Homo sapiens: one gene and its partners. The protein of the gene in region 4 purifies or fractionates together with the protein of the main gene of each other region. This does not show direct contact. Each region holds a gene or a part of one and is shown on either strand. Other genes may lie near its edges. The genes, in order: PPP5C, NUDCD3, HADHA, USP49, PPP6R1, CETN3 and ANKRD28.

The links.
Region 1: the proteins of USP49 (region 4) and PPP5C purify together in Homo sapiens (affinity purification with mass spectrometry; one large-scale study listed by BioGRID and IntAct). This does not show direct contact.
Region 2: the proteins of USP49 (region 4) and NUDCD3 purify together in Homo sapiens (affinity purification with a luminescence readout; one large-scale study listed by IntAct). This does not show direct contact.
Region 3: the proteins of USP49 (region 4) and HADHA purify together in Homo sapiens (affinity purification with mass spectrometry; one large-scale study listed by BioGRID and IntAct). This does not show direct contact.
Region 5: the proteins of USP49 (region 4) and PPP6R1 purify together in Homo sapiens (affinity purification with mass spectrometry; one large-scale study listed by BioGRID and IntAct). This does not show direct contact.
Region 6: the proteins of USP49 (region 4) and CETN3 purify together in Homo sapiens (affinity purification with mass spectrometry; 4 studies listed by BioGRID and IntAct, with this or other methods). This does not show direct contact.
Region 7: the proteins of USP49 (region 4) and ANKRD28 purify together in Homo sapiens (affinity purification with mass spectrometry; one large-scale study listed by BioGRID and IntAct). This does not show direct contact.

What each region holds. Positions count from the first base shown.
Region 1 is NC_000019.10:46,385,087-46,388,280, reverse strand, and holds part of PPP5C (serine/threonine-protein phosphatase 5), read right to left. Parts: intron 1,189-3,194; coding exon 1,046-1,188; intron 916-1,045; coding exon 828-915; intron 1-827. UniProt on the Homo sapiens protein: Serine/threonine-protein phosphatase that dephosphorylates a myriad of proteins involved in different signaling pathways including the kinases CSNK1E, ASK1/MAP3K5, PRKDC and RAF1, the nuclear receptors NR3C1, PPARG, ESR1 and ESR2, SMAD proteins and TAU/MAPT.
Region 2 is NC_000007.14:44,389,659-44,393,158, forward strand, and holds part of NUDCD3 (nudC domain-containing protein 3), read right to left. Parts: intron 2,828-3,500; coding exon 2,639-2,827; intron 1-2,638.
Region 3 is NC_000002.12:26,196,133-26,199,632, forward strand, and holds part of HADHA (trifunctional enzyme subunit alpha, mitochondrial precursor), read right to left. Parts: intron 1,646-3,500; coding exon 1,559-1,645; intron 1-1,558. UniProt on the Homo sapiens protein: Mitochondrial trifunctional enzyme catalyzes the last three of the four reactions of the mitochondrial beta-oxidation pathway.
Region 4 is NC_000006.12:41,804,876-41,808,375, forward strand, and holds part of USP49 (ubiquitin carboxyl-terminal hydrolase 49), read right to left. Parts: intron 2,137-3,500; 5' UTR 2,109-2,136; coding exon 753-2,108; intron 1-752. UniProt on the Homo sapiens protein: Deubiquitinase that plays a role in several cellular processes including transcriptional regulation, cell cycle progression or innate immunity.
Region 5 is NC_000019.10:55,235,018-55,238,517, forward strand, and holds part of PPP6R1 (serine/threonine-protein phosphatase 6 regulatory subunit 1), read right to left. Parts: intron 1,954-3,500; coding exon 1,896-1,953; intron 1,805-1,895; coding exon 1,626-1,804; intron 1-1,625. UniProt on the Homo sapiens protein: Regulatory subunit of protein phosphatase 6 (PP6). May function as a scaffolding PP6 subunit. Involved in the PP6-mediated dephosphorylation of NFKBIE opposing its degradation in response to TNF-alpha.
Region 6 is NC_000005.10:90,399,757-90,403,256, reverse strand, and holds part of CETN3 (centrin-3), read left to right. Parts: intron 1-3,500. UniProt on the Homo sapiens protein: Plays a fundamental role in microtubule-organizing center structure and function. As a component of the TREX-2 complex, involved in the export of mRNAs to the cytoplasm through the nuclear pores.
Region 7 is NC_000003.12:15,668,980-15,672,479, reverse strand, and holds part of ANKRD28 (serine/threonine-protein phosphatase 6 regulatory ankyrin repeat subunit A), read left to right. Parts: exon of another isoform or gene 1-846; coding exon of another isoform or gene 847-870; exon of another isoform or gene 871-1,120; intron 1,121-1,923; coding exon 1,924-2,210; 3' UTR 2,211-3,500. UniProt on the Homo sapiens protein: Regulatory subunit of protein phosphatase 6 (PP6) that may be involved in the recognition of phosphoprotein substrates. Involved in the PP6-mediated dephosphorylation of NFKBIE opposing its degradation in response to TNF-alpha.

The DNA of each region.
Region 1 (3,194 bases), on a different chromosome or scaffold from region 4:
CATCCAGCATGGACATGGACATTCAGGACAGGTGACTGTGATTCTGAGCCACCCCCACCCTCTCTGCTGATCTGCCCTCCAGACCCCATTCAATCCCCTGTGGCCCCGAAGCCAGATAGAGCTTTCAATGTCACTATTCAGATCAGGCCCCTCTCCCACTCAAAGCCTTTGGTGGCTCCGCACTGCCCTAGGAACAAAGTTCCTCACTGGGGCCTGTAAAGCGCCATAGGATTTGGGCCCAGTGAACCCCATGTCCAATGTCAGCCCTCAAAGCACAGCCCTGCCCACTCGCCAACTTCTCCCTGCCTTAGGACCCCTCCTCAAGCCTGGAATATGCTCGCCAGGCTCTGTGCACGGCAGATGCCTCTGCTTCCCGCAGTGTCAGCTCAAACCTCGCCTCCCTGGAGAGGCCTTCCTGAGCACCCAGCACCAGCCCACCCAATCCATGTCCTCTGCAGCACTCACAGTGTGCACGTGCGTGTGCACCTGTGGGTGAACTCTCTGAAGTGTGCCCGTCACTAGCACAGGAGCCCCAAGACCTCCCCTCCTTCCAGGGTTCCACAGCTGAACTCACAAATAAATAAGGACAGGTGTGCTCGGCGGTCACCGTGCCTTCACCCCGCACCATGGTCACGACCGTGCTTGCCATCACAGCCCCATGAAGGAGGTGCACTGGCCCAAGTCGCAGGTGAGGAAACTGAGGCTCAGACCCGCTGTTTCTTGCCAAGGGCACAAAGCCCATCCTCCGAGGCAGGGCTGGGTTGCAGGGGAGAGCTCAGCCCAGGCTGCCCCTTTCTGCTGGAGACACCTGGCCCCGCGCTGCTCACCTGAATCTGGGGGTTGTCGATTCCGCTCAATTTTCCGGATGTCATCCAGGGTGACACCGTCTTCACTGAACAGGCCTCCGTGCATGATCTGGGGAGATGGGGGATGCCGCTGTGAGGGAAGGTGCCACCCACCCACAGGCCCCAACTTCCTTCACCAGCACATCTGCCCAGGTGTGGCTGGGTGGGGAACCCACACTCAGGGCTCGCGCCGTCCTCACCAGCACTTTGCCGTTGATGCACTGGGCCAACGGGAGCCACTCGAACACCTCGCTAAAGAGCTCGTACATCTGGGCTGTGTACTTGGCCTTCACCTCACCCTCGAAACCGTAGATCTGGTTCATGTTGTCTGTCTCGTGGTTGCCTGGCCAACACGGGGACAGAAGAGAAAGCTCAGCCTCCAGGTACATCAGTGTCCTCCAGCCTGGCACCCTCAAGGCCCAGAACTGTGCATGCGTCCCTTGCCCCCATGGGCCTCGCACTTGCCACTGCGGTGCCTTCCAGACTGGAGGTACCAAGGGGGGAATCTTGACAAAAAGTAGGTCCATGGCTAAGCACCATGGCTCACGCCTATAATTCCAGCACTTTGGGAAGCCAAGGCAGAACTGCTTGAGCCCAGCAATTTGAGACCAGCCTGGGCAATATACTGAGACCTCTCTATAAAACAATTTTAAAAATTAGCTGGGCATGGTGGTGCGTGCCTATAGTGCCAGCTACTTGGGAGGCTGAGGCCAGAGGATCACTTGAGCCCACGAAGCAGAGGCTGCAGTGAGCTATGCTCATGCTACTGCACTCCAGCCTGGGCAACAGAGCAAAGCAAGACCGTCTCAAAACCAAAAAGTAGGCCCATCTACAGAACATGTGCCCCAGCCCACCCCACCCTGAGCTCCATCCTTCTGTCTCAGACACAAGCACCCGGCCTCCTTCTTCCCTTCCAGAGCTTGGGGGCAAGGAGAAGGCTGCCCAGTCTCGCATCTGCTCAGACTCTGCTTGTCTGACTTCTCGGCCTGAGCACTTGTTGCCTCCTGCAACGAGGCCCACAGTCGGGCTTCCTGAGCTTTGACCCTGTGCTGGACACTGCTGCGTGAACCCTGTGAGCCCAGGGACACGGGCATGCAGGCTTCGCCCCAGCCTATCACTCACCTCCCAACTCACCCCGGCCCCGCCATGGGCAGGGCCTCCCCTGTGTGGCCCTCACATCCCAGTGAGCTCCTCTTGTCTAATCTCATCTGGACACCAAGAAACCTACATTTTCAACACCCCTTGGAACCCCACCCACATCCCATGTCTCCTGAGTCTCAGCCACATCCAAAGGGGAGCTCCTCAGCTCCTGGCCACACCCTGCTCTACATGTTCCCGTCTTCGTCACTGGCAGCCATAGCCCTCCAGATACTCCGGCCAAAACCCTAGAGGGCCCCTTTCGTTCCCTCTTTGTCTCACACCTGTGTCTGTTCCTCCAGCAAATACTCTGGGCTCTACTTCCAAGTTTCTTACTTTTTTTTTTTTTTTCAAAGAGACAGGGTCTTGCTCTGTTGCCCACGCTGGAGTGCAGCGGTGTGATCATGGCTCACTGCAGCCTTACACTCCTGGGCTCAAGCAATCCTTCCACTTTGGCCACCCAAGAAGCTGGGACTACGGGTGCACGGTGCCACCATGCCTGGCTTTTTTTTTTTTTTTTAGACTGAGTCTCACTCTATCGACTAGGCTGGAGTGCAGTGGCGCAATCTCGGCTCATTGCAACATGTGCCTCCTGGGTTCAAGCGATTCTCCTGCCTCAGCCTCCCAGGCAGCTGGGATTACAGGCGTGTACCACCATGCCCGGCTAATTTTTGTATTTTTAGTAGAGACGGGGTTTCACCACATTGGACAGGCTGGTTTCGAACTCTTGACCTCAGATGATCCACCTGCCTTGGCCTCCCAAAATGCTGGGATTACAGGCATGAGCCACTGCGCCTGGCCTTTTTAAAAAATGTTTACTGGAGACAAAGTCTCACTGTGTTGCCCAGGCTGGTCTCAAACTCCTGGGCTGAAGTGATCCTCCTACCTGGGCCTTCCAAAGTGCTGGGATTACAGGTGTGAACCAGCACACTCAGCTCCGGGCTCTACTTCAATCAAGAGAACCCAAATCTGACACCAAGCCTGAATCTGAGGGGGCACAACTGCCTCGTCAACAGTCTCCTTACTCCCACCCTCGAGCCCTGGTCTGTTCACTCAGTCACTCAGCTTTAGTGCCAGATTTAGGGCCACCCAGGAGCCTGTTTCATGCCCTTGTGCAAATTAGAATAAGGGGCCCATCCTCACACCCTTGTTTGCCATCTGCTGAAAAATGGTCAGAGTAAACATCCATTTCTACACTATCTATGATGTAAA
Region 2 (3,500 bases), on a different chromosome or scaffold from region 4:
AATCCTAGCACCACAAAGGCAGATCTGTGTCTGTCTTCCTCACCGACGTGCCCCAATAGAGGGGTGAGACTATGCAATGTTACAAGGTGTTGGCACAGAACATAAAGGATGGGGGAAAGAGACTGAGAGGAAGGTCAAGGAGAGGGGAGGATGTAAGGGAAAGAAAAGGGAAACAGAAAGAAAGGAGGGAAGGGGAGGGGCAAGGATGTAGAGAAGAAAAGGCTGGTGGAGCCCCTGACACCTCCATGCGTGTCTTTGGCACTACTGGCAACTCCAATGATGAGCAGGTATTCCTGCTATTTTGTTTTTGAATATAAAGTTCTGTAAGAGATACAATCACAGGAAACATGAGGGCTCACAGATAAAAACAGCCAGAGCATCCTAGCTTCTCTCATGCCTCAACAGCTAAAGTCTACAGAAAACTGGCCAGGCGTGGTGGCTCACGTCTGTAATACCAGCACTTTGGGAGGCTAAAGCAGGTGGATCATCTGAGGTCAGGAGTTCGAGACCAGCCTGGCCAACATGGTGAAATCCCGTCTCTACTAAAAATACAAAATTAGCTGGGCGTGGTGGTGTGCGCCTGTAGTCCCAGCTACTCAGGAGGCTGAGGCAGGAGAACCGCTTGAACCTGGGAGGCGGAGGTATCAGTGAGCTGAGATCACACCACTGCATTCCAGCCTGGGTGACAGAGCGAGGCTCTGTCTCAAAAAATTTAAAAAATAAAATAAAATAAAGTCTACAAAAACTTCATCAAGGCTTTGACAAACGCACAAATACCATTCAAACTACAATAATTTTTATCATCTCTCTGTAACAAAGGCTCAGTGTCAGTGTCTGGGGAAGATGTGAGAAACCACCTGACCTTAGTCCCTCCATCCTGTGGCACAAAAAGACACTTCTAAGGGGTACATGGTAAGACTGCCTTCTTATCTTTCTGGAACAAAAGGCATCTGGGTTCATGTTCTCCAGTCAAAACAGACTCTTTCTCCCGAAGGTCAACTCATGAATACATCTCAGTCCTTTTGTGGACCCAATGCTGAATATGGGCACAGAGTGGGCAGACCCTCACATACACCATCCCCAAACACTACCATGAGAAGCCCTACCCACAGGGCAAAGGTTCAAAGGCTGGCCTTTCATCTAGTGGCCACAGGCAAATGCAGCATAACTGGAATGAGCCATAACCAGGCAGGTCTGGCTGTCTAAGCACCTGAGCTGAGCTCAGCTGAGCAGGTGCTGCAATACTACCTGAGGCTTCAAACTCTGCATGGACGTAGGCCAAGCAAAGATGTCCTTTAAGCTTGCCATGCCCCGGGTGGAAAAGGGGGCCAAACCTAGAGGAACATTCTCTTCCATAGAGACAAGGGCCAGGGTGGACAGGGCTGTGAGGACAGACAGGTGTGAAATCAAATCAGAGGTCAAACCCCATCCCTGCTGCCTAAGCTACTGAGTCACAACCTCAGAAATTCAATCTCTCTATTGTGGGGGGAAAAAAACAAAAACAAAAACAAAAAACAAACAAACTGTATTTTCAGGGGTACTGTGCAGCCAGTCAACCCCACCTTAACTGTGTGTACTAAGTGCTCAGGACATGCCCCTGGTGTGGCAGGGCCAGGTGAGGAGAACATGTTGACACTCCTCTCCGCAGGCTCCTTCACCTCATAAGAGCAGGATGCACCTGTCTGTGAAAATAGGCAAGAACGGACGAGACACAGCAACAGGGCTTGCAGAACCACCTACGATGTATTAATACGTGCTGTACCGGAAGGTAAGACTAAGACAATCCAGATACACCACAAGGTAAGGTTCCTCCAAGAGACAAAATGAGAAGAAAATATCGATCAGCGATCTTCAGGGGGAGGAGGCGGTCCGTGTTTACAGAACAAAAATAAGGAGACTGTGCCCAGCAGATGACCCCTCCCCACTGACTCAAGGCTGCACTGCGTCCGCGTGCCCTGCTGTACTGCGGCCCAAACCCACGTGCTGGGTATATGGGACACGGGAAGTTAAAAATAATCTGAGGAAAGCAACCCTTTTTTCCCTAAATAGCTACTCTTGGAGTTATTAAAATAGGAAGAAAGAATGTATACATCTAATTAATCATTCTCTTTGGCCATGAGCAAACTCTACACTGGGCACTACACTGGTCAGACAGGAACCTTTCTCTTCCTCCTCCCTAACCCACTGCTGACATCACAGAGTCTTCACATGCTGGCCTCCAACATCCAGAAACTGGCTCTGCAATCTGGCTCCCTCCCCTCCTCTACCAAAGGTCCCACCAAGCGACTCTTCATGGGAAGATATGTGCAGATGAGGCACAAACAAAAGCCATCAACACACTTGATGTTACCAGGCTCTGGTGCAGGAAGGGCAGATCTCATGACACCCTTCGAGGTCCTGTTAACTGGGCTCTCAGCCCAGGTATGAGAACACAGCTGAAAGACCAGAGTGCACCTGTGAGGCAGTGATTGGGGACAAGAGCAGGTAAGACAGGTTCCTTGCTAGGCTAGGACATGGCAGGAAGCTGGTCCACACAACCTTCTTCCCCACCGTCATCACCAACCCCTCTGCCACTATCGGCCTTGTCACCAGCACAAGGGCCTAAAGGGTGGACTCTCCAGGACTGCCATGCTCGTACCAGCTCATGGCTCTGTGGCTTGCCCTGCAGCTTCTGGTGGTAGTCAAAGGTAAGCCTGTCCAACACCGCCTGTTCCTCCTCATCCACGGTGGCCATGGAGCGCTCCTTGTTGATCTTGTCAATGTCGATGGGCTCTTCTCCCTCCAGGATGGCGTTCCACCAATACTCGCCCACCTTGCTCAGGTTCACCTGGGGACAAGCAGGACAGAGACCTGAGTCAGAGACCTGAGACAGGTGTCCAGGGCTGGGGACAGAGCAGAGCCCACTGAGGGATGGGTGTCCAGGATAAGCTCAGGACCAACTACACAAAGGGAGGTGACAGACAAGAGGGGGTGCCAGAACCCAAGGCAGGACCCTCTGTGCCTGGGAATGCATTTGCTGCCTGTGCTAACATATCCCAGGGAAGAGCTAGGAGGCACATACCTGAGGGGACTGACATTCTGGAAGATGCCTTTATCCTTCTTCAGCAGGTCCTGGATACTCAGGACAGTGCCTGTTCCATGTGCACACCTTGCCCACTCTCATGAAGAAAGGCTATTTTCCAAGACCCATGACACCCCCCCACACCAGGACCTGTCCTGGGCCAACCCAGCCTGCCCCCATGCTTGCCATGGAAGGCTCTGCTTAGCTCTTATCAACCAACTACCTCTCCAGTGATCTCTCTTGCTTCCAAGAGCAACATCCAACATTCTGCTATCTTAGGGGTAAGCTGGGACCTATGAGACTTAGGGCTCAGCCTAATGCATGACAGAATCTCCTGGGGAGTCCTCACCCCATGACAGGGCACCATGCCCTGTCCCCACTTCTTCCTCACTGGGGCCAAGCTTGCTGCATGAGGGGGTCCTCCAGCCCCATTCCCTAA
Region 3 (3,500 bases), on a different chromosome or scaffold from region 4:
GGTCAGCCTAATTATCTAGATGAGGAAAAAAGGTATCAAGAGGTTAGTAGTACAGAGTCAGTCAGCATATGACGGGGTGGGATTCCATCACAGGTCTGTCTATCTCCAATGCCATTATGTAATACACAGATCAAGTAAATGTTATGTAAACTTATCAATCCAAAAGTTGTTTCTAACCCCTAAAGTGTTCTTTTACTTACATCTGAAATACTTAGGACCTGATTCAGACTCAGTACTCCTGAGCAAAAGGAATTAGCCTTTATTGATGTAGAATTTCTATATAATAAAATGCACAGATCTTGAAGTGTTCACATCAATGAGTTTTGACAACTGTATATACATCCATATAATCACTAACCCAAGCAAAATATATTTACATCACTCAGAAAGTTGTGCCAAAGATGACCAACTCATCCTGGATGGCTGGGGATTTCCCAATTTGTGGCACTGAGGGTCCTGTATCCCTTGCTCCCGGGCAAACCAAGATGGTTGGTCACCCTATTTTGTCTTTTTGGCCTTACTTTTAAATGAATGACAAAAGGCAAGCAGGTGAGAAAAGCTGTCCTAGATACTTGGAGGGCAGAACTGCAAAGTGTGATGCTTGCTCTGCTCCGATGGCGGGGAGAGGTTACCATCAAATGAACAGCAACGGCATCGCCTGTACTGATTTTAGATGCCACACAGATGTCTTGAGTGATATGACATGGCCAGACTGTCCATCTGTAGACTATCGGCTGCAACTTCTCCCTATGACCTTTAGCCTGCCATCATTGAGCCTGCCTCTGTCAGGTCCCCGCATCACTTCTAATCTGCTGTGTGCTAGGAAACTAGATTACCTTGCATTAGCAAGCTAGAAGAGTAGGAATAAATAGGCTTTTGTGTTTTCAGTACATAGAATTTGTATTAACACTTTCAGCTGCTTAAAGTTCTTTTATAATTCCTGCCTACCTTCGGCTGGTTCTGGTTAGCAGAGGCTAACTGGTATCCTCCAGAGAAGTGAGTTGTTTTACTTCTCTTTGAATGATTTCACTTCCCCTTAATTACTCTGGTTGAGAGCAAAAATAAATTTCTGGGCATCATTCCAAATACTCACAGAAAGTGCTTCTATACCCAGCCCTTTCATGTCCCGGGGTAGAAGGTGTAAGCAAACCCACGGGCAGACACATCCCACCATTCCTGCCATTCCCTGATCTGGAGGTGGAACCAAACCTGTTCTAAACAGTCACTGACTCTGCTCTGTAGCCAAACTGGTATTTTGGAGCATCCTTTCTTAAGGCCTATCCTTCAATGCCTAATTCTAGGATACAGGTGGGCTTTATATCCTGAACCTGAAAAATAATGCCCATTTGGGATCCTTGAAAAGGATATTTTTTGTTGTACTTAACTTACTCCTGCATCTCACACTAGTCATGGTATTAGCATTTATTGTGTCCAGTGTTTAGGAACCACCCGCATCCACTCCGTAATCCACTGTCTCTTCTGTACTCAAGCTGTAAGCCTTTATCAGTGAATCTGAAGCAATAAAACATCTCAGGGTTTTTCTCTGTTCCGAGTTTACCTTCTCAGGTCTTTTGCTGACAGCAGCGATTTCACTGATTGGGAGAGCAGATGTGTTACTGGCAAAGATACAGTGATCTGGAATCACCTGCAGGGGAAAAGCATTTAACAATGTGTCAGGTAGGCCTGGGAGATGATTAGAGGCCACATCAAAGCTAATGAGTGACACCTGGGCCCAGCCCACTCTGTCCCCCACAACTGCTCAGACAGTAGATGTCACTCACCCAGACATTGACGGATCACCTAGGGGGTTTTGTGTCGGGGAATATGTTGACCTTGTTCCTTTTCCCATTCTGCCTTCCTCTAGTTATGGCCCATCATAAGGTCACCTTATCCTGACCTGGAGACTACATCTCAGCAGTTGGGTCAATAAAACAGCTTAGAACAACACTGAAAAGACGGCCTTGAATTGCAATTCATTGATTTCAACACCCAGCATGGGTGTCACCTCCTCTTTTGTTTGGATCTGCCCTGAATCACTCCCCGCTTCACCTTTATAAGAACAAGCCAAAATGTGCATGCTTGTCTCATTTTATACAGTGTGTTACTAAAAAACGGCATACCACTATAGTTGCAGCTACAGTACACAAATACTATTAACTATTAGCTTTATCCACCTGGAGAATAGTCTCTAATGCAGATTGTCTCCGCATTCTGGCCACGATCCCAACTTATTCATGTTTTTTTTTTGTTTTTTTTTTTTAAAGACAGAGTCTCGCTCTGTTGCCCAGGCTGGAGTGTAGTGGTGCAATCTAGGCTCGCTGCAACCTCCGCCTCCCAGTTATTCATGTTTTTATTCAGATGGTTGGATGAGAAACGTGGAAGGGACACCTGTCAAATGTGTGCAAATCTGGAACAGGCAGAATCCTAACAGAGATGAGAATCAAGGAGGAAGACACATTCAACACACTGAAAAGCTGAGTACAAAATAAGATTATAATGCAATAAAAGTAAAGTACTGCCTTAAGATTTAAAAAAAAAAGGAAAGAAAAGAACTGTATAGGTACTTGAAGGACAAGACCTGGCTTGGCAGTATTTGTGATAAAGATCCCATGATTTTAGTTAATCAAGAGTGGAGGGTGGGCATGGTGGCTAAACAACTATAATCCCAACACTTCAGGAGGCCAAGGATGGAGGATTACTTGAGGCCAGGAGTTCAAGACCAACCTCGGCATCATAGTGAGACCCTATATCTACAAAACATAACTTTTTTTTTTTTTTTGGAGACAAAGTCTTGCTTTTTCGCCCAGGCTAGAGTGCAGTGGTGCAATCTCAGCTCACCGCAAGCTTTGCCGCCTGGGTTCAAGCAATTCTCCTGCCTCAGCCTCCCGAGTAGCTGGGATTACAGGCACCTGCCACCATGCCTGGCTAATTTTTTTGTAGTTTTTAGTAAAGACAGGGTTTCATCATCTTGGCCAGGCTGGTCTTGAACTCCTGACCTCGTGATCCACCCGCCTCAGCATCCCAAAGTGCTGGGATTACAGGTGTGAGCCACAGTGCCCGGCCCTACAAAAAATAACTTTAAAAAACTAGCCAGGCATGGTGGTACATACCCATAGTCCTAGTTACTCAGGAGGCTGAAGTGAGAGGCTCGCTTGAGCCCAGGAGTTCAAGGTTACAGTGAGCTGTGATCATGCCACTGCACTCCAGCCTGGGTGACAGAGTGAGACCCTGTCTCTAACAACAAAAAAACAAAACAAAAGTGGAATGAATTGACAGTACAGCATGACTGTCAGAAAGCTTACGTAGTGTCAGGTTACTTTCTTAGTAATATAGTGTCTAATGCTGGTGGTGAAATCCTTTCTGAAGAGCAAACTAATGTCTCCAAAGCTGGCTGGCAAACATTCTTCCCTTCCTTGGACATGTATGTCTTTTCTCCCAGCTAGAAGTAGAGTCTGTTTCCCTTCTCCTTGAATCTGGGCTGGTCTTGTGACTTGTTTTTA
Region 4 (3,500 bases):
GTAGCTGGGATTACAGGCATGCGCCACCACGCCCGGCTAATTTTGTATTTTTAGTAGAGACAGGGTTTCACCATGTTGGCCAGGCTGGTCTCTAACTCCTGACCTCAGGTGATCCACCCACCTTGGCCTCCTGAAGTGCTGGGATTACAGGCATGAGCCACCGTGCCCGGCACACCTGCCTTTTTTTAACTATAGAAATACTCTTTCTGCATATTCTCGCAAGGCCCTGTCTAAGCATTTTTGCTTAGGTTACATGGCTAAAGATGCAGGAAATAAAAGGTAATGGGGAACAGGAAGGAGGCTTGCACTGGCCTTTAGCATGCTCCCAGCTACCTACCTTCCCTGTATGTAAAGAAGGGAGATTGCTCTTTCAAACTATTATGGAACCAGGGTTACAAGCAAACTCTGTTCCCTCAAATTGATCAAAGGATGGCACACCAACAATGGGTACTTAATTATAACAATGAGAATATTATATTACCCCTATCTTCAATAACAATTAAAGATATTCACTGAAAATTAAGCGATGTGGCAAGTTAAACTAAAAATCTGGCCGGAAAGACACTAGGCAAGTTTCCCCAAAAGGCCATCATAATGTACAGCAGAATGAAAGGTATAATGGCCACCCTCCAAATTGCATAATCACAGCAAATGTGGGCTACTCTTATTAGCCCAATAACCCGGGGAAGGCACTCACAGGAAGCCCAAGCTAACATACAAGCCTCTCATTGTCATGGTAGGCACACACATACCTGACTGAGCAGCTGCCCATGAAATATGGTATTCACCACCTTTAAGACCTGTTTGGTGAGCTTCCTCTGGGAGAAGGGGATGAGGATCCGGCGTGTGGTGCCCTCAGACTCGAGTTCCTGCTGCACCTTGTGCAGCAGCTCGCAGAGAAATTCCTGCGCGTCCTGTTGGTCGTAGCCGCGGAAGGCAGGGATCAGGCTCCACACTGAGTGGAGCATGGCGAAGGGCGACACTAGGGCCCACTTCCCGGACCACATGACTCGGAAGAGGGTGTGCAGTTCACGGCAGAGGGAAATGTGCTTTGAACTCGGCTCCTTGTTCTGGATGAGCTCCAGACTCCGACTAATGGAGGCCCTGCCGTTCCAGCAGAAGCCCTCCCGCTCGCATGCCTCGGCCCTGTCATTTCTCAAGGACAGCTCCGTGGCCGAGCTGTTGGTTGGCTTGCCAGAAAGCTGAGTCTTCCCGTTGGTGGCTTTGGGAAACAGATGTTCCGTTTTGGAAGGGTCAAGGTTGAGGAAACATTCTCGGAACTTCTGGAGGTGGCTGAGCACCTGGAGGATGGAGTTCATGTAGCAGGTGTTGCCCAGGTTGCGCAGGCCCGTGACGCCTGGGGCCATGGCCGGCTGGCGACGCAGCTTGAGTGTGGCGGCGGGCACTCTGCGTGAGGTAGGGAGGGCGGCGGGGCGCGAGGCAGCCGGGCCCGCGTCGCGGGGCGTGTGCAGGAGCAGCCGTGCACTCTTGCGCGGAGGGGTGCTGGCCAGCTCCTCCAGCAGCCGCCGTTTCACCTCGCGCCGCCGCCTCCGCGCCTCCTCCTTCTTGCGCTCCAGGGCCTCCTCCTGCCGCCGCTGCTCCAGCTTCGCCTGGCCCCGGGAGCTCTTCTCGAACCACAGCCGCAGCGTCCTGGCCAGCAGGCGCTGACGCCGGTACCACAGAGCCGTGAGCATCTGCGGCTGTCCCTGAGGAGCGCGCTGCGGCAGGACCACGTCCTCACCCGAAGCCATGGACCGCAGCGTCCGCCCACGTCTCACCGGCGTGTCCTGTTTCTGGCCCCGGACCGCCAGGAGGGAGCTTCTTAGCAGCTTCAGGTCCCCCTCTGGGTTATCATTGAGCACGTAGTCCTTGCACAGGTAACAGAACACGTAGAGATCCCGGACTTCCATGGCTAGCGGGTGTCCCGTCTCCTCAAAGTGTTTCAGGGCGTGGTCCTCAATATAGCGGCCGCAGGCCACGTGGGAGCACTTGAGGCAGGCCCACACGGACTCGGTGGTGGCACACTCTAAGCAGCACCACTTCTGAGGGTTCAGGATGGAGTGGTCCTGGGCGAGCCGTAACCGCCCTACATGTTTGCATCTATCCATGTCTTATAGAAGTCGCCACTTTCTCAACCTGGCACGACAGAGTCCCCAAAAAAGAAAAAGAAAAAGAAAACACTTTTAGAAAAATATTTTCCTTAAAAAAAAAAAAAAAAGTAAAAGGCTTGCAATTGATATTTCAACTCTAGATTCATTCATTTTCAACTCCAAATTGGTTCCTTTGAAAGTTAAAAAAAGGCACATTTGGTATAAAGGCAGAGAGTTACAGGACAGTTAAATTACTTAAAAAGGAAGACTCTTACGGAAGGGTTAGCACAAATTTGAAACTTTATGGTGTTTCACATACCAGTGGGAGAGATGAAGAAACTCAAATAAAAAGTCAATTTTAGGTCGATTGCAATGTTTTTCAAAGCAGAGATAACATGATATAAGATAGAAATAAGAGAAAGAAAGTCCTCACCAGTACAAAGTATCATTTTTATGAGACGTGACTAAGGAACATTGTATATGTGGTTTTGTTTTGAGACGGGGTCACTCTGTCGCCCAGGCTGGAGTGCAGTGGCGGGATATCAGCTCATTGCAACCTCCACCTCCCGGGCTCAAGCGATTCTCCCACTTCAGCCTCCCGAGTATCTGGGATTACTGACGCCACGCCACCACACCCGGCTAATTTTTGTATTTTTAGTAGAGACGGGGTTTCAACATGTTGGCCAGGTTGGTCTCGAACTCCTGACCTCAGGTGATCTGCCCACCTCGGCATTCCAAAGTGCTGGGAATACAGGCATGAGCCACCGTGCACAGCCGTATATGTGTTTTTTAATTTATTTTTTGTTTTTTATGTATTTTTTTTTTTGAGGTCGAGCCTCCCTCTGTCACCCAGGATGGAGTGTAGTGGTGCAGTCTCAGCTCACTGCAACTTCTGCCTCCCTGGTTCAAGCGATTCTCCTGCCTCAGCCTCCCAGGAAGCTGGGATTACAGGTGCGCGCACCACCACACCCGGCTAATTTTTTTGTATTTTTAGTAGAGACGAGATTTAACCATGTTGGCCAGGCTGGTCTCGAACTACTGACCTAAATGATCTGCCCGCCTCAGCCTCCTAAAGTGCTGGGAATACAGGCACGAGCCACTGCGCCCAGCCAACATCCGTCTTTTTGAAAAGAACATCTGCATCTTGCAGTAAGGGTGGGAAAACTTTTACCTTCTTTACTGAAAGGAAAGGTAAGTAAAGAACTGGACAAATCTGACTTAGGACAAGAGGTGAAGTGGCTACTGGTATAATATTTAACCAAACTACCGAAACAAAAGAAAAAAAAGCAACGAATCTTCCAGCTGATATATATGAAAATGCTTTTTAAAACAGTAGAACATCCTAAGCATGTTTTTTTTTCCCCCTCCCAATAATGCTTCTTCAATTCAATAATCAGAGAAGCCTTGTGG
Region 5 (3,500 bases), on a different chromosome or scaffold from region 4:
CTCAGGATCTGTATGTACACTTGTCTATACGCATGTTACATGTCAATAAAAAGTGAAAACAGCCTAATTCCGAAATCAAAAGTCATGAGTCAAAAACTCAGTTGCAGATGATGACTTAGTGTTCAGGCTGTCAAATCTACATGGCATGAACCCATTTCATCACAGCGACTCTGGGGCCGGCCAGTATTAAGAGAAAAAAAAAAAACAATGTAACATTTGCACTAAAATGTCATCACAGCCTGATTGGAGAGGGACGTCATCATCTCTCATTTTACTGGAATTAGAGAAGAGAGAAGCTGCCTGGGACCATCTTACCCCCCTTTCTAGGAAAACGTGTGAGAGCTAACACGAGGAAGTGAAGTGAAGGGATGAAGGAAGGAGACAGGGAGGCGGGAAGAGAGAGACACACACAGACCAAGCCATACCTCAGGACCTGCCTATTTTTTCAGCCACAGAGATTATCCCTTTCTTTTCATAACTTAACTCATTTGAATTAGATTCCTTTTTTTTTTTTTTTCTGAGACAGAGTCTCGCTCTGTCGCCCAGGCTGGAGTACAGTGGCGCAATCTTGGCTCACTGCAAGCTCCGCCTTCCGGGTTCACGCCATTCTCCTGCCTCAGCCTCCCAAGTCGCTGGGACCACAGGTGCCCGCCACCACGCCCGGCAAATTTTTTGTATTTTTAGTAGAGACGGGGTTTCACCATGTTAGCCAGGATGGTCTTGATCTCCTGACCTCGTGATCCGCCCGCCTCAGCCTCCCAAAGTGCTGGGATTACAGGCGTGAGCCACCGTGCCCGGCTGATTTTTTTTAATTTGTTGATTCTTTTTTTTTTTTTTTTTTTTGAGACCAGGTCTCTGTCACCCAGACTGGAGTGCAGTGGTGCGATCTCAACTCACTGCAACCTCCGCCCCCCAGGGTAAAGCGATCCTTCCACCTCAGCCTCTCAAGTAGCTGGGACTACAGGCACACGTCACCACATCCAGGTAATTTTTGTAGAGACAGGGTTTCGCTATGTTGCCCAGGCTAGGTCTCAAACTCCTGAGCTCAAGCGATCCATCCACCTTGGCCTCCTCCCGAAGTACTGGGATTACAGGCTTGAGCCACTGTGCCCGGCTAATTTGTTGATTTCTTAATGCATCATCTACCTTTTTTTTTGAGACAAGTCTGGCTCTGTTGCCCAGACTGGAGTGCAGTGGTATGATCTCGGCTCACTGCAACCTCTGCCTCCCTGGCTCAAGCCATCCTCCCACCTCAACCTCCCGAGTAGCCAGGACTACAGGTGCACACCACCATGCCCATCTAACTTTTGTATTTTTTGTAGAGACAGGATCTCCCTATGTTGCCCAGGGCTGGTCTCAAACTCCTGAGCTCAAGCAATCCATCTGCCCTGGCCTCCCAAAGTACTGGGATTACAGGCACTCAGGGATTACATGAGCCCACCATGCTTGGCCTTGAATTAGATTTCTATCACTCAAAAGTGAAAGTGCCCCCAACTAATACACACACCAATGCAGGTTCCTTATTTTCTTCATTCACTTCAGCCTCAGTCCAAATGTGTTGGGGGGACCCCTTGGCCCTGCCGTGTGGTGGAAGCTTGGAGAAGGGAAACTGGAGGGGGACTCACCGGACACCAGGTGGCTGGCCCAGACGGGCCCCCCTGGCCAGCTGGCTGCCCTGCCAGGCGCCATCTTCTCCATCAGACTCCCCTGAGCCCTGGGCCTCTTCCTCGTCCTCCTCTTCCTCATCATCATCAAACTGCTGGATGCGGTCCTTGTAGCATATCTCAAGTAGGTTGGCGTTGGGCTGCAGGGCACAGGGGTGGGAGGATGGGCCACACTGCCCACAGCCCCACACCCCTCCACCCGCCACAACCAGGGGACAGGGCAGTACTCACGTTCTCATCGTCAGCATTGAGGGAGAAGGTGATGTTGGCTGTCTTGTCAAAAGGTGCGCTAGGAGAGAAGGCAAGGCATGGTGAGAAGGTCCACCTGGGGGTGGGGGCAGCACAGGACAGGCCACATTTCTTTCTTCACTCAACACAGAGCTGACCCTCATTACTTGCAGATTTGGTATCTGCAAATTCACACACAACCCGAACCACTGGTCCTAAGGGGCAACGCATACATGAATATCAACATCTCACATATGATCACTTTAAATCCTTAAAACCACTCATTGAGGTAGGCTGTTTCCCTTGGCTCTAGAAGTGAGAAAATGGGGCTCGGAAATGTTAAGCGACTCTCCTCAGGCTCTTCCAAGGACAGGTGCCAGAGAGGGATTCAGATCCATGCCCTTGTCCCCATCCTTGGGGCATCTGTAGGAGGCTGACACTCACACCAGCCAGGCACAAGCAGAATGTGAGACTACAGCCCAATAAAGCACATCCCCTAACCTCAAGATGTCTACGGTCCGCGGCTGAAATTCTAAATTATGGGAAAAAGAATCACGTCAAAACTTAAACTGTGCCTGCCAGGGCCCCACCTCCCTCACCACGAGGGTCTAATGATCAGGGTCCACATTCTGTCCCACGTGTTACGGACAGTTCAAGGGATCATTTGTCTCAAATTCATGAAAAATTCTGCCACAAAGATCAATGGATAAAGGACAGTTAATTCTTAAAGGACACTAAGTATGTGACAGACATTACTCACGCACTTCATTCTCACAACCACCTTCCAAGGCAAGTGTCCTTAGTCCCTCCTAGACACTGAGAAGCAGCGGAGCAGAGACCACGCTGGGCACACAGTGGGTCTAGGGCAGGGCAGCCCATGTCCCCGTGGCACTGGCAGCCTCAGCTGACCTGGCTTCTGCTACAGGAGCTATGCGGGGCAGCATCTTCAGCCTTGAGATGATCAAACCAGTCATCCACTTTCCATTCCGGAAATCTTTCTGGGTTTAGTTTTGTTCACTTAACTTCTTAACCCCTCTGGAATTTTCTTGGTAGAGGAAAAGCTAACAGTTTCATCCCGAAAGGGGCAGCTGGTGACCCCAATGCCATCTACCAGTCAGTCCCTTCATTCTCCTGCCAGGGTGGGGTTTTCTTCTTTTTTTTTTTAATTAAAAAAGCAGAGATGGTCTCACAATGTTGCCCAGGCTGGGCTGAAATTCCTGAACTCAAGCGATCCTCCTGCCTCGGCCTCCCTAAGTGCTGGGATTAAGATGTGAGCCACTGTGTCCAGCCCAGTTTTCACTTGAGCATCTTCTCCAGGGGTCTCGGCACAGGCCACTGACCCACAAAGACCAACGCTCTGCAAGTCTCCATGCTGGGCACAGAAGCAGCCAACACAGGATATCACGTCTGCATCTGAGAGGACCTCTGTCCAGCTGTGGACTAAGCCAGGAACAGCTGACTATCCCTCATCGTGGTGTCCCTTACGCTGTGCTGTACAGGGACCCCGGGGCAGCCATGGGCAGCCATCCAGCTCCCACACACTAACCAGCTATGTCCTGGGGCCTCAGTCTCCCTGGCCGTAAATGAGCTCATCGTGGGGAGCAAGAC
Region 6 (3,500 bases), on a different chromosome or scaffold from region 4:
TTGGGACAGATGATTCTAAATCATAACATTTGAGTCCTAGTTTTATGAACTACCCAAGGACACTGTTCCACAGATATATCTGGATGAAGTTTGGCAGTTAACTATTATAGACTCTTCCTAGTACTGGAAAAAAGCTTTAAAATATATTTAATTTAAGTTTAGAGTCAAGACAGCCTGAGGCTAGTGAGTAACATAGATATTTTAGGAATTAGTGTCTTTAAGACTAACATAAGTCAAACGTTTGTACACTATTTTTGACATGTACTACTTATTATTGCTGATTGAGATTGTAATACTGTATTATTGTCTTCATTTTGCTTATTTAACACTGAATTTTTTGGTATTAGGTACTGTACTGGGGTTGGGAAGAAGACTTAATTAAAAGTTACTAAAAGGTTCTTCTTTCAGGGAGTTTACAATGTAAATATAGGTGACAACAGGCTATAGTACTATGTGGTAAATTGTAATTTTGTCTAGGACAGAAGTCAGCAACTATAGCCTTTGGACCAAATTCAGCTGCTGCTTGTACACCACCACACCCCTTCTTTTATGCAGCTTTTGTGCTACTATGGCAGAGTGAGTAGTTAGAGACTTTATGGCCCTCTACAAAGCCTAAAATATTTACTATTGGCCTTTTACAGGAAAGATTTGTTAATCCCTGATCTAGAGGAATTGAAGTCTTTGCAGAGGAGATTTTAAATTTAGGCCTTTGGAAATGTGAGTAAGATTTCATTCCAAGATTGCCAGGAAGAGTAGAGAAAAAGCATTCTAGGCTTAGAAAGCAGCAACAACAAAGAATGGTACTAGACGGATAGCATGTTTGGGAAACTAGGTAGTGTTCTGGGCTAGACATAGGGAAATGACTGGAAACATAGGATTGGGCCAGATTGGTAAAGTCTTGCAAAACATGAAGATTTTGAATTCTAGTCAGCAGAGATCATTCACAATTTTTAAGGGAAGGGGATATGATATGTTTGAGAAAGAAAACTGATGAGAGTATTATTGATGATGAGTTGGAAGGAAGAGAGACTGCAGACAGAAAATACTATTTTTTTCGCTGAGGATGGCGAGGGTGAAAAGAAAATACATTTAAGAATAAAAAAGAGGCTGGGCTTGGTGGCTCATGCCTGTAATCCCAGCACTTTGGGAGGTCAAGGCGGGAGGATTGCTCGCTCACAGGAGTTTGAGACCAGCTGGGGCAACAAAGTGAGATCCTGTCTCTACAAAAAAATTTTAAAAAATTAGCCAGACATGATGGCACATGCCTGTAGTCCCAGCTACTTTGGAGGTTGAGGTGGGAAGATTGCTTGAGCCCAGGAGTTGAGGCTGCAGTAAGCTGGGATCACGCCATTGCACTCCAGCCTGGGCAACAGAGCGAGACCTTGTTTTAAAACAATAAATAAATTAGAAAAAAAACAGTATTCTCAGTACTATAGGACCTGATTAAGTTTGTGGGACTGAAAATGATTTATGCTTTTCAAATATGGAATCTAGCTGTAAATGTTGCTGTTATCTTTTGGTTGGGGTAGGGGAGGCAGCTGCAGTTACTATGGTGGTAGTGGAATGAGTTTGGAGTCCAACATGTCTAACTGGTATGTTTGGATAGAAATTTCCGAAAGACATTGAGAAATACAGTTAAAGCTGTATTTCTAGCATTACCTATAATAATTTTTAATTTACTTTTGATGTGATGTTTTTGGATTTGCCGTATTCTTAAGTGATTTTTACACATTAAAGGTCTAAGAAAGTATTTTGATGAAGTACATTTCTGATAGTATGTGTAATTAAATCATTTGAAAATACAGTTGCATGGACAGAAATTTGGAGTTTTGTGAAATAAATGAAACCCACCTTAACTGCCTCTATATCAGTTTACTAATATTTTCATTGAAAATAAATATATTCCTTATAATTAAATTCTACTTTGTGGAACAAGAATAGAACCTGAAGGCATGGAGGAGAGTCATTATAAAGTTATATATTAGGTAATGTTTTTGCTGTCCAAAATGATGAGCATTTATAATTCCCAAGAAAAGCTGCATTTTAAGGAAGAATATTGATAAAAGAATATATAGACACATAGCTCTGAAATAACTAACACAATTAAAGTACCAGTGGGATAAGAATTTATACATCTTGGAGCCCCATCTGTTCCCCAATCACCCTGTTGCTTCTTTAAGTACATTAATACTTTCAGCAAGCTGCTTTTTTGGTTCACCTGTCATGTAAATTATTTAATTGGTGAAGAAAATTTCTTAACACTTTTTTTCCTTGTCCTGCTTTTTTGTTGGGACTAAATTCAAAATAAGTTGAGTATGTGCCATAGAGTTAAGTGTGGTATTTTATTTTGGTGTTATGGCTGTAGATATGCCAGCTTCTTTTTGACTGAATATTTATGAGCTTTGATGATTTGCATACTTACAGTAATATACTTCAATTAGTTACTTGGAAGCCTTTTTGGATAAAATTAATGGATAAAAGGAAACTATTGAAAATATGTGTAGATGATATAATAGTCATTTGAATAGGTGATTATTGAACCAAATACGGGTGAAACAGCAGCAAAACAACAGCTTGTTGGAGACTTCGATTGTATTTTTTTCATTCTGGGTTCCTTAAACATTCCAGTATTTTCCATCTATAAGCAGTTGCTTTTTTTTTTTTTTTTAATGATTCTGTAACCTTCAACAGGACCGAGTTATTTTTAATAGCATAGTAAAGGCCATAAATACCTTTTCTTGTAGTGGCAGATAGTGTATATAATTACTTCAGAGATACTTATTTAGATACTGTTAGAATTTTATTTAGTAACTTACCAATTTTTATGCCATAGATTTTTATTTTAATTTTTATTGTGGCTATTGATTAAAGACTGGTAAAATTGAAAATACTTAAGCTTATTACTATGTTATTACATGTGATTATATTTAGTGTATTAAAATACACAATTACCATTGAGGTTTGAAACTACATTTATTTTTAGTTAGTTGTCTGAGAGTGATTTATCCAAACAAAATGGGTAAGCTTTAAGGAGACCTTCTTTGCAGAGGTTTTTTTTGGGTGGGCTTTCCTGCTATAGTCAGATTTGATCCTATTTACTACTTTGTAAATTTTGGAAAACCAAGAGGTTCTTCTAATCACAAAGGTATTAGTGGAATTTTCAAATGCTGTCTGAGATTGTGCCTGTGTCTGCGATGGCAGTACTTTTTGTCTCTTGCAGTTTTTCTTGTTTTGAAGTTGGATTAAATTTGAGGAAGAATCAGTGTTAGTATGACGTTTAGTCAGCAAGCAGCTTTTATTTAGTTAGCTCCAATTATTTTGTTGGTATGTCTCTCCACAGGTAGATGACACACTCCTTGTGTGCTTGATGTCAGTGGAGCCTAGTACAATTCTTGATAATAGTAGATCTTAAATAAATATGGTATAAATGTAGTCCTTTTTATTTTGCCTCTGTGTGATATAGTTTTGCTTACTTTTATAATAAGACAAGTTGCTCATGA
Region 7 (3,500 bases), on a different chromosome or scaffold from region 4:
AATGGGAACTTTACAAAGGGGGAAAAATTACTTTTTGTGGCTGGGCACAGTGGCTTACTCCTATAATCCCAGCACTTTGGGAGGCAGAGGCGGGAAGATCACTTAAAGCCAGCAGTTTGAGACCAGCCTGGGGAACAAAGCGAGACCCTGTATCTACAAAAAAGTTTAAAAATTAGCCAGGCATGGCATGTGCCTATAGTCAGAGCTAGTCAGGGGGCTGAGGTGGGAGGATCACTTGAGCCCAGAGGTTGAGGGTGCAGTGAGCATGATCATTATACTGCACTCCAGCCTGGGTGACAGAACAAGACCCTGTCTCAAAAAAAAAAAAAAAAATCCTTTTTTTATCAAGGCCAATATAGCATAGATGAAAATATGTGGGAGAACTGGAAGCAACCAGATGCCCAGTAGTTGAAATGTATAACTAAACCATAGTATAATCACACAATGAAATACTGTATAACAATGAAAATGAACCAACTACAGTTACATACAACATTGATAAATTTCATATAATGCTACACAAAAATGCCAGATATGAAATAATACATACTACATGATTCCATTTATATTAAGTTTTTTAAAAACTCTAAACTGTAGGCTGGGTAAGGTGGTTCACATCTGTAATCCCAGCATTTGGGAGGCCGAGGCAGGCAGATCACTTGAGGCCAGGAGTTTGAGACCAGCCTGGCCAACATAGCGAAATCCCATCTCTACTAAAAATATAAAAAATTAGCTGGTCATGGTGGCACACACGTGTAATCCCAGCTACTCAGGAGGCTGAGGCAGGTGAATCACTTGAACCCAGGAGGCAAAGGTTGCAGTGAGCCAAGTTTGCACCACTGAACTTCAGCTTGGGTGACCGAGCAGACTCTGTCTCAAAAAAAAAAAAACAAAAAAAAAACTATAGTGTTTATGACTCCAAGTTGAAAGCAAGGAAATTACTACCCCATAAGTCAGGATAGTAGTTACCATTGTGGAAGAAGAAAGGTGTAACGACTGGGTAGAGGATATATGGAGGCTTCTGGTATGCTGGTAATGTTCTCTTTCTTAATCTGTATGGTGGTTATACAAATGTATGTTATGTGATAAAACTATTAAAGTTCCATATGGTATAATTGAAGCTTGGCATCACACTATTATCACTTCTCTCCCGCTCCGTCCTCAAGACTGAGTCTTGTACCAACTGAGGTACCAAATGTTTCCTCCTTGGTTTGCTGTGTTGACACTTTGTGGTAACTTACGACTAAGGTCAGTTGTCTTCCGCTTAAAAAAAGGGAATATTTACAAAGGAAATATTTGTTTTGATTTAGTAGTTTTTAAAGTTCATCTGCTTAGTTTGTCTACTGTTTTTCTTCAAGAGACTGTGACCCCAAGAGAAAAGTTAAATTGACAACTAAGTGTCATTCATTCAACACATATCTTTTGAGCACCTGCCCTGTGGCTGATTCATGAAGCTGTACACATTTAAGATTTCTTAGCATCAAAAAGTTTCCTTACATAACTACAAATTAAATTTTTTTATTTTTTCTTACCTTGACACTGATATAACTGCAAATTAACAGTAAATCTCTGCCTACCATCCTGAAAGAATATTCACGATATGTGGTGTTTTTCTTATTCTAGCCCAGTTTTTTCTGTGAATTCAGATGGATACGGATAAGTTGTGAGACCTTGGGGAATCATTCTTCTCTGGGCCTGCTTCCTCTTCTGTTGTCTAGTCTAACATCCCCTTCCACCCTAGGTTTCTATGGCTATTCTTTTTCTACTTATTAGAAACTTGCGAATCATGCTGGTTACAGCAATTTATTATAAGCTAAGTAATGTAAAATATGTCTAAAGTTGAAGTACTTTAGGCTTATTTCCTTGTCTTTGGTGAAATACATCTCAGGATGCTTAATTTTTAAATTTTATCTTTAATTCTAGGCTATACCCCAGCTTTGGCCTGTGCTCCCAATAAGGATGTGGCTGATTGCCTGGCTCTCATTTTGGCCACCATGATGCCTGTCTCATCAAGTAGTCCTTTATCATCCTTAACATTCAATGCCATTAACCGTTATACCAACACCTCAAAAACAGTCAGCTTTGAAGCTTTGCCCATCATGAGGAATGAACCTAGCTCCTATTGCAGTTTCAATAACATTGGAGGGGAACAGGAGTACTTATACACTGACGTGGATGAGCTCAACGACTCCGATTCTGAGACCTACTGAGAGGCTGAGGAGGAGGGAGTTCTCACAGTAAAGCTTCAAACTGTGCTTTTTCAGGAAAAAGGCACTTTGATATTCACGTAGAAATTCAACCTAAGAGGAAAGATCCCACAGTGAGCCAATGTTAAGAGATCTGATGGCATTAGGAGGAAGAGTTTTAAAGGCAAGTTTTACAAAAGGAACTTCTAGAATCTTGAAATAGACCTGACTGAGGAAAACACATTGATGTCAGAATTCTTTGTGGAATTGTTTAATTTGGTTTTGCAGTGCCAGGAACAATTGGGGACACTGTGCACTCTAACCTGCTTACACAAGCAACACTATTGTAACAGAAGAAATAAAGACACTAGATTTAAATTTTATCAATAAAATTACAACTAAATTTAAAGGCAATAAAAGTTTGGTACAGTAGGCATTATGTGCACAGCAAATTGCAAAAGGACCAAATAACTGAAAGGTTTTTTTAATAAAATGCCATTTTGTGGAAACTGGAGTAGATTAAATGAAACATTACCTAAACCAAACTGCAATATTTCTGGAAATGAAGCTGAGATTTGGTTTTAAATGTTGAGTTTTTTTGGGTTTTGTTTTTTTTTTAAGAAAACATCTGAAAGCCTTCCAATGCTGTATTAAACCATGAGAGAAAGCAGATGTATTTTTACATTTTTTTCTTTTACAGAACTATTTCAAATTTCCAATTTTTATACTATTAGAATTAAAAACCAGCTGACTGGGTGCAATACGGGTGAAAATACTTGTGACATAGACATTGAGATGGATTGGGGTCAGGCTGTTGCCCTGTTTTGAATGGTTTGGGTTTAAAATAGTACTATTTTTGTTTGAAAATGTAAAGAATTTCCTAGAAAAAAATTCATGAAATCAAAAAGTAGACTATTTCACCCTATTGCAGCTAAGTGGTCCTGGGGCATGGAGTCTTCAACCTCTCTATGAATGGCACACCTTAGTCACTTATGTTACTTTTGTGTCCCCACCATGGGTTGGGGGATTTTTTGTTTATTCTGATCTATGAGTTTTGAAAAAGTGAATAATCAAAAGGAAAATAATTCCTTGTTGTTCATAAATTAAGCATCACTAAAGTCTCTTGAAAGGCATTTCTGTATTGGGCAAGATTTAAAATACTAAAGCCTTAGGTCCTATTCATATTTAAAGTAGCATGTTTGTAACCTGTTACTATTTGGAGAGAGAAGCAGTTGCCTGCCAAATTGAAGACTACCTTTCAAATAGCAAAAGAGAGAGAGAAGGCTGATATTTCGGCTTTTAAATAAAGATTTG